Homo sapiens: one gene and its partner. The protein of the gene in region 1 interacts with the protein of each later gene in a pairwise test. Each region holds a gene or a part of one and is shown in the gene's direction. Other genes may lie near its edges.

Region 1 (3,600 bases):
CTTTATATATTAGGGAGATAACAGGTCAGAGAATGGGATCACTTTGTTTTTAAAATGATTTTTAAAGAAGAAGACAAAAACTATATCTGGTCACCTTTCATATGTACCTAGGCCCTTCTGCGGGGCCTCGCCTAGAGCAGTCACAGAAATGTCCTTGGGCAAAGGATGGGTTTTCCTAAGAACTTCTTTGTCCTTGCTAAGTGGGACCATCACCTCTTTCTCTCCCACAGGGCTACGGCATGGCATACACTGTCCACAAGTGGTCAGAGCTCAGCTGGGCCAGTCACTGGGTCACTTTTGGATGCTGGATCTTCTACCGTCTCATAGGCTGAGGCACATCTGTGGACCCTCATAACCCTCTTAAGACCCCTCTCAGGGTGCCACTGATGGGGGATGAGGGAAGGCCCTCTCTCTACTCCTTGACCCCCTCCATCCTTGACCCCCAACACCTCAACACACACACACACACACACACACAAAATCACACCATTTTCATGCCTGTCAATCCCCACCCCACCACAAGGCAGGAAGGGGGTGGTGCCTGCTGGGGCCTAGAGGGGGATGCTTGGGGAAACAGAGAAGGGGAGATCCAGGGCCTCCCCGCCTTCCTTCTTCCTTTTTATATACAATTTGTTATTGTCAAATAAAAGTAGGAAATATTCAATAGGCTTCTTCTTCACTGCTCAGAGGGGAATAGGAATGAGTGAGGAAGGGAGCACAGCATGGATAAAGGTTTGGAAGCTGGAAACCATGAAGAGAGAGCAGACTGTGATTGGTTCATGGTTAGTTTATGATTGATTAGATGATGAGCCTGAAGATGGCAGGATCCTGGTCCTGCTTGGTTTGATCAGGGCAGGGACAGATTGCATAGTTGGATGTGGGGGAGGCCTGATTGGCTGGAAAACTGAAGGATCCCCATTCTGATTGGTTGCTCTGAGTGGGACACAGAGGAGAGAAAGCAAGAGAGATGAAGGGTTGGTGCCTATTTATCCTTAGGACTGAGGGTTGTGGGTTCTAATTGGATGGGAGGTCTGGGATGGGTCTGGATTCTGATTGATTGCTCCATCTGGGGGCCCACTGGTGGTTAGGCGTTTGATTGGCTTTTTAGAACTGGCATATGGAGATTGAGGGTCTTCATGCCAATTGGTCAGTAGGACTGAGAGGCCTGGGTTCTAACTAGTTCTTCTGACTTGAGGTCGGGAGAAGAGAGAATGACCGCTGCTATTAGGACTGAGGAGTTCTGAGCACTGAAGAGCTGGGGAGGGGGTGGTTGCAGTGTATAGCGTGTGATCTGCTTGTAACAGTTTCGTTGCATTATACTAAGGGTTACTCTACCTAGAAAAGGGCGGAGGTGAAAGGATGCAACGCAACGCTAATTTCACCAGCGGAAGAAGCGGGTACAGACCTTAATGAGTCCCCGTTTTGATCGACTGATAAGGGAATGGGGAAATTGAAGCCAGGACTCGATGCAGATTGGCTACGGATCCAAAACGCCCACTAACCTTGGCGCGTCCCAGTCTCCACCCCAAACCTAACTCAGGTGAAAATGGCGCCACGCGCGGGGGCGGGGCTAGAGGTACAAAGAGAGTGTCTATTGGTTGGGAGCGGCACGGGCCGCCTTCTTCGCTTCACCATTGGCTCGCTCCGTAAGGCAAGAGAACCCACTAGGGGATGAGCCCGAACTAGGGATGTGACAGAGCGCGAGACCCAGCCTAAAGAGAGCCCGGAGCCAGCGTGGGAGGCCGCTGCCGTCGCGCGCCTTGGTGAGTGCCCTCCACCCGGCCCCTGCTCCCTCCCCCAGCTCTCCCCGGCTACGCGGCCAGCCCTCGGCGTGCCAGCGCGAGACCCTTTGCCACCCGCCCCCCCCACCGCCCTTTTGCGCCTGCGCGAGACCCCCAGCTACCGCACGGTTGTCCAGAGGACAGAAGATCCGTCTTCTCATTGGGCAGCGGGACTGGAGGGTTCTGGTTCGGATTGACCGGCTTTGTGTTCCGTTCTAGCGCTGCACGCCAGACACCGGCCTTTCAATATCCGTCTCTTCCCTGCAGGTTGACGGCGTTGCACGCTCTCGCGGGGAGGCTCTGGCTTTCCAAACGCTGGCACCGAGGGTTGTAGTTCTGATTCGTTTTCTTTCCTCTGTCCCCCAGTTGCAGTTTTCAGGACTACGTGGGGGAGGGAATAGCTTTTTGTTGAACGGTTTAAGACGCTGACCTGTGCAACTGGACCACGCCTGGTTCCTGTGTCTCTTACCAAACCGTGACCCCGGAGCACAGGACTGGGTTTGGTGGTCGTGAGCAGTTTGTGACCCTTGAAGGAAGACACCAGGCCTGGTCCTGTATCTCCCTCGCCAGACTGTGACCAGGGAGGGCTGGGATCAGGTGTTGTTCCCATGTGCCTCCCACCAGACTTTGACCCCCGAGGGCTGAGACCGGGACTGTTTCTACCACATCATAATATGGCTTCTAAAGGGCTGGAACAAGCTTTCAGCCTTTCTGTGGCCTTGTGTTTCAGTCATGTTCTTTTTCTTTTCTTTTTTATTTTATTTTGAGACAGAGTCTCGCTCTGTTGCCCAGGCTGGAGTGCAGTGGCATGACCCCGGCTCACTGCAGCCTCTGCCTCCCAGGTTCAAGCGATTCTCCTGCCTCAGCCTCCTGAGTAGCTGTAACTACAGGCGCACGCCACCACACCTGGCTAATTTTTGTATTTTTAGTAGAGACGGGGTTTTGCCATGTTGGCCGGGCTGGTCTTGAACTCCTGAGCTCAAGTGGTCCACTCGTCTTGGCCTCCCAAAGTGCTGGGATTACAGGCGTGAGCCACCGCGCCCGGCCTTCTTTTTTAGAGGCAGAGTCTCAGACTGGAGGGCAGTGATGTGGTCACTGCTCACTTCAGCCTTGAAGTCCTGGGCTCAAAGCGATCCTCCTGCCTCAGCCTACCTACTAGCTGGGACTACAGGCCTTTGTCACCACACCTGACTGATTTTCTTATTTTTTTAGAGACAGTTTCGCTGTGTTGCCCAGGCCGGACTTGAATTCCTGGCCTCAGGTGCTGCTCCTGCATCAGCCTCCCAAAGCACTGGAATTACCTGCCACGGTGCCTGGCCTTTAGTCATGGTCTTAAAACAGAATGTAGGCCGGGCGCAGTGGCTCACGCCTGTAATCCCAGCACTTTGGGAGGCTGAGGCGGGCGGATCGTGAGGTCAGGAGATCAAGACCATCCTGGCTAACACGGTGAAACCCCGTCTCTACTAAAAATACAAAAAATTAGCTGGGCGTGGTGGCAGGCACCTGTAGTCCCAGCTACTCGGGAGGCTGAGGCAGGAGAATCGTTTGAACCCGGAAGGCAGAGGTTGCAGTGAGCCGAGGTCGCACCACTCCACTCCAGCCTGGGTGACAGAGCAAGACTCCGTCTGAAAAAAAAAAAAAAAAACGGAATGTAATTAGAAGTGTTACAATCCTGTCTGTTAACTGGTAAATTCGGTCCATTTACATTTCTCATGATAATAAACTATTTGAATTTGATTTTATTATCTCATTCTGTACTTTCTATTTGTCCAGGTTTTTCTGTTCCTTTTTTTTTTTTTTTTTTAACTTCCTGCCTATA
Region 2 (3,827 bases), on another chromosome or scaffold:
TTCATTTTTGACGGTTTCTCAATGCAGTAATTTCCTTTTTACATTTACCCAACTTTTTTGGTTATTTTCACCAGATACATTGTTCAATATATCTATTCTACTATATTCTATTAATAACAGTCTACTATATATGTGTCTTATTGTCTAATATTGCTGAAATCTTTTTTTAATCCAATAATGAATCTCTGTCATCTAATCAGTGAGTTTAAGCCATGTGAATGTATTATAACTACTGATCTATTAGGACTTTTTTCTGCCCTCCAGTTGTGACTTATCTATTCCTCATTTTTTTTAGTTTCTGTTGGATGGATCATATGTTCTTCTGCTAATATGAATATTATAATTTTATTTTTATTTGTTTTATTAAAAATTTGTCCTTGCTCTTAGGACCCATTCCTATCCTTATATTTATTATTACTAATTTAACATCCAGCTTCAGAAATACAACTTTAATAGGAAGGCTTTTTGTATTTCTCCTGACTGCTCAGACTTAGGGTCTTTATTTGATGCTCCACCACCAAGTCACCTATAAGGAAAGTTTGCATTCACAGGAAGACTATAAATAATAAAACCAATCCCTTGACTAGGACTTAAACCATGTAAAAGCTGGTGGCAAAAGTAAAGGGAGGTGACCCTTGAGACCTCTGAGGTAACTGCTCTTAAATTTACATTTGCCTCTAAAAAGGATTTCTTATATGTCAACATCTCTCTGTTTAAACATATTCTTGTGTAAAACCACTACGTGACCTGAATAATGGCCATAGGGCTCATCTCTAAGCCAACTGGCTTATTTATTTAATGCATCTCAGTGGTTAACAGGGTTGAAATTTTTTGAAAACTGCAATCAATGATCAAAGAATGATCTAGGTAAACATCGATTCCTTGTGGCAACATTTTAATATTTTCAAAGACAAGGTACAACTGGTAGAAAAAAAATACCCTCATGCATCTTTTTCTTCTAATTGTGGTAAAATATATGACATAACATTGGCCATTTTAGCCATTTTTCCTTTTATTTTTAGTTGACACATAATTGTACTTATTTATAGGATACAAAGTGATATTTCAATACATGCATATAATGTGTAATGATCAAACCAGGGTAATTAGCATATCCGTCACCTCAAACATTTATCATTTGTATTGGGAACATTCAAAATCCTCTCTTCTAGCCTTTTAAAAGTATACAATAAATTGTAGTTAACCATATTCACCTTACAGTGCTACAACACCAGAAGTCATTCCTCCTATCTATAATTTTGCATCCATTAGCCAATCTCTCTCCATCCTCCCCTCTCCCTAATCATTACCAGCCTCTAATATTAATATCTGCAACACTACTCTCTACTTCCATGTGCTCAACTTTTTTAGCTCCCATATATAAATAGGAACATGTGGTAATCTTTCTGTGCCTGACATTTCACATAACATAATGTCCTCCAGGCTATCCATGTTGTTGCAAAGGACAGAATTTCATTATTTTTATGGGTGAATAGTATTCCATTGTGTGTGTGTGTGTATATATATATATATATATTCCATTGTGTGTTATGTATGTATAGTATTCCATTGTGTGCATATATATGTATATATGTGTGTACATATATATATACATAATATATATTCTTCTGCACATGGAAATCCAGTTTCTCCAGCATGATTTATTGAAGAGGGTATCCTTTCCCCAGTGTATGTTCTTGGTGCTTTTATAAAAAATCAGGTGACCTCAGATCAGACCCAACTACATCATACCTTCTTTCGAAATGTGCAAGAAACCTACTAGAAATTCTTATTGTTAGAGTTTCAGATTTATGTCCTGGTTTATACTGCCACATTCATTCTTGGAGGTGAGTACATTTCGATCTTGGTCCGGCTGCGCAGAGAGTCAAAGCAGGAAAATCACAGATTCTTCCCAGCAGTCTACAGCCTACACAGCGGCATTTGGTGCGATGGGATGGAACATGCTGTATCTCTATTCCATGTGGGGGTAAAGTGGGTGGCCTGAAATTTCCTGTGTCTGCCTGCATGATGCAAAGCTCACAGTTCAGAAGCTTAAGGACACACTTCATATCATCCCATCTGTTCTGGTTCAGTGCATAAGAATCTAAGTCTCTGAGGAAGGTAGCATAGTGTGCAGTTCACTGGACCAAAAGCTTTGGCTGCACCTCTTCTGGAAAGCCTGGCCATGGGGCTCTTCATGATCATTGCAATTCTGCTGTTCCAGAAACCCACAGGTAAACCAAACCAGAAGCTCACTCAAATCAACAGTGGGATGGAGCATTTTCAGGAGCCAAAGGGAACTTCATAATCCACACTAAAGGGAAATAGAGCCCCCAAAGATGGCTAAAGTTTATCCAACATCATCAGAAATTTCCTCTTTCTGGAGCCTTATTCCATGTTACTATCCTTAAAGAGGAGTACTCACTGAGCTAAAAAGAGGTCATAATTTCTTCTGGGAAAGATGTGTTGTTATAGAAAGGAATGATGCCAATATCTAGGGATACCTTTATGTCTTTGGATATGGTTTTTACTCTGATGCTCAGCTATATTTCCTTTTACTCAAATATATATATGTGTGTGTGTGTGTGTGTGTGTGTGTGTGTGCATGAATAGAGGAAGAAGCAAATTTTGGAGTTAGGTTTAAGAAACATGCCTTCAATATCTACTAGTTTGTCAACTTTAAGTAGTGAAGACTCTAGGAGCCTCAGTTTCCTCATCTATGGAGATAATGACACCTGGTTAACAGGGGTTTTATTAAATGATATAACCTATGTGAAGCTTGGCACATACTGAGAACTCAAAAATTAGAGTTTCCTTTCCTCTTTCAAAACCAGATTTCTTACATGTGTCCCTTATTATAAGAATAGTAATGGCCTATTCCTGACCCTCTACATTCCTAAGACCCAATAGACTACTACCTTACTGGATAACATGAAAGTCATTCTTGACCCTGATAGTGGGTTTGAACTCAGGAGAACAGTTTGATTCAGACATAAACACATAGTAACAATACATTGTTCTCTGGGCATCAGAGGAGGTGCAGTAGAAGGTAGTGCTCTGGGAGCATTCAGGATGCAGGCAGATTTGCTGAGGTTCCTATGTAGAGCATAGTTCCATAGCCTAGAATCAAGGGTTCAGCTCCTTTATTTTCTCAGATAAGATCTTATGTTCTTGGCAGAGTCTATCAGATGTTAAGGGAGGCCTAAAACCTCACAGGACCTAAATATAAGTGATCCAGTTAAATACAAACACTGAGGTTGACCTTGTCGGAAAATCCTCTTCAGAATATATGAGGGTCTGCCTTGTGGATACCCCATACCCCTAATTCCTACAAGCCTCCTCTGTCTTCCCCAAAACCAACGTGCCTTCAGTCTCAAACACTGATATTGTTCTATTGCTCCTTTCTGTGTATAGTAACCGAACAACTTAAGAAGTGCTGGAATAACTATGTACAAGGACATTGCAGGAAAATCTGCAGAGTAAATGAAGTGCCTGAGGCACTATGTGAAAATGGGAGATACTGTTGCCTCAATATCAAGGAACTGGAAGCATGTAAAAAAATTACAAAGCCACCTCGTCCAAAGCCAGCAACACTTGCACTGACTCTTCAAGACTATGTTACAATAATAGAAAATTTCCCAAGCCTGAAGACACAGTCTACATAAATCAAATACAATTTCGTTTTCACTTGCTTCTCAACCTAGTCTAATAAACTAAGGTGATGAGATATACATCTTCTTCCTTTTGGTTTCTTGATCCTTAAAATGACCTTCGAGCATATTCTAATAAAGTGCATTGCCAGTTTTCTGTCTCATTTTGTTCTTTAA

What was found. Proteins that work in one complex are often made in the same cells at the same time.
Region 2: the proteins of EBP (region 1) and DEFB127 interact in binary tests that used the Homo sapiens proteins (3 or more experiments, as listed by UniProt).

What each region holds. Positions count from the first base shown.
Region 1 is NC_000023.11:48,520,145-48,523,744, forward strand, and holds the start of EBP (3-beta-hydroxysteroid-Delta(8),Delta(7)-isomerase), read left to right. Parts: upstream 1-1,663; 5' UTR 1,664-1,763; intron 1,764-3,554; 5' UTR 3,555-3,600. Other genes in the region: PORCN (protein-serine O-palmitoleoyltransferase porcupine), read left to right, coding at 231-332. UniProt on the Homo sapiens protein: Isomerase that catalyzes the conversion of Delta(8)-sterols to their corresponding Delta(7)-isomers a catalytic step in the postlanosterol biosynthesis of cholesterol.
Region 2 is NC_000020.11:155,360-159,186, forward strand, and holds DEFB127 (beta-defensin 127 preproprotein), read left to right. Parts: upstream 1-2,094; 5' UTR 2,095-2,185; coding exon 2,186-2,234; intron 2,235-3,414; coding exon 3,415-3,665; 3' UTR 3,666-3,804; downstream 3,805-3,827. UniProt on the Homo sapiens protein: Has antibacterial activity.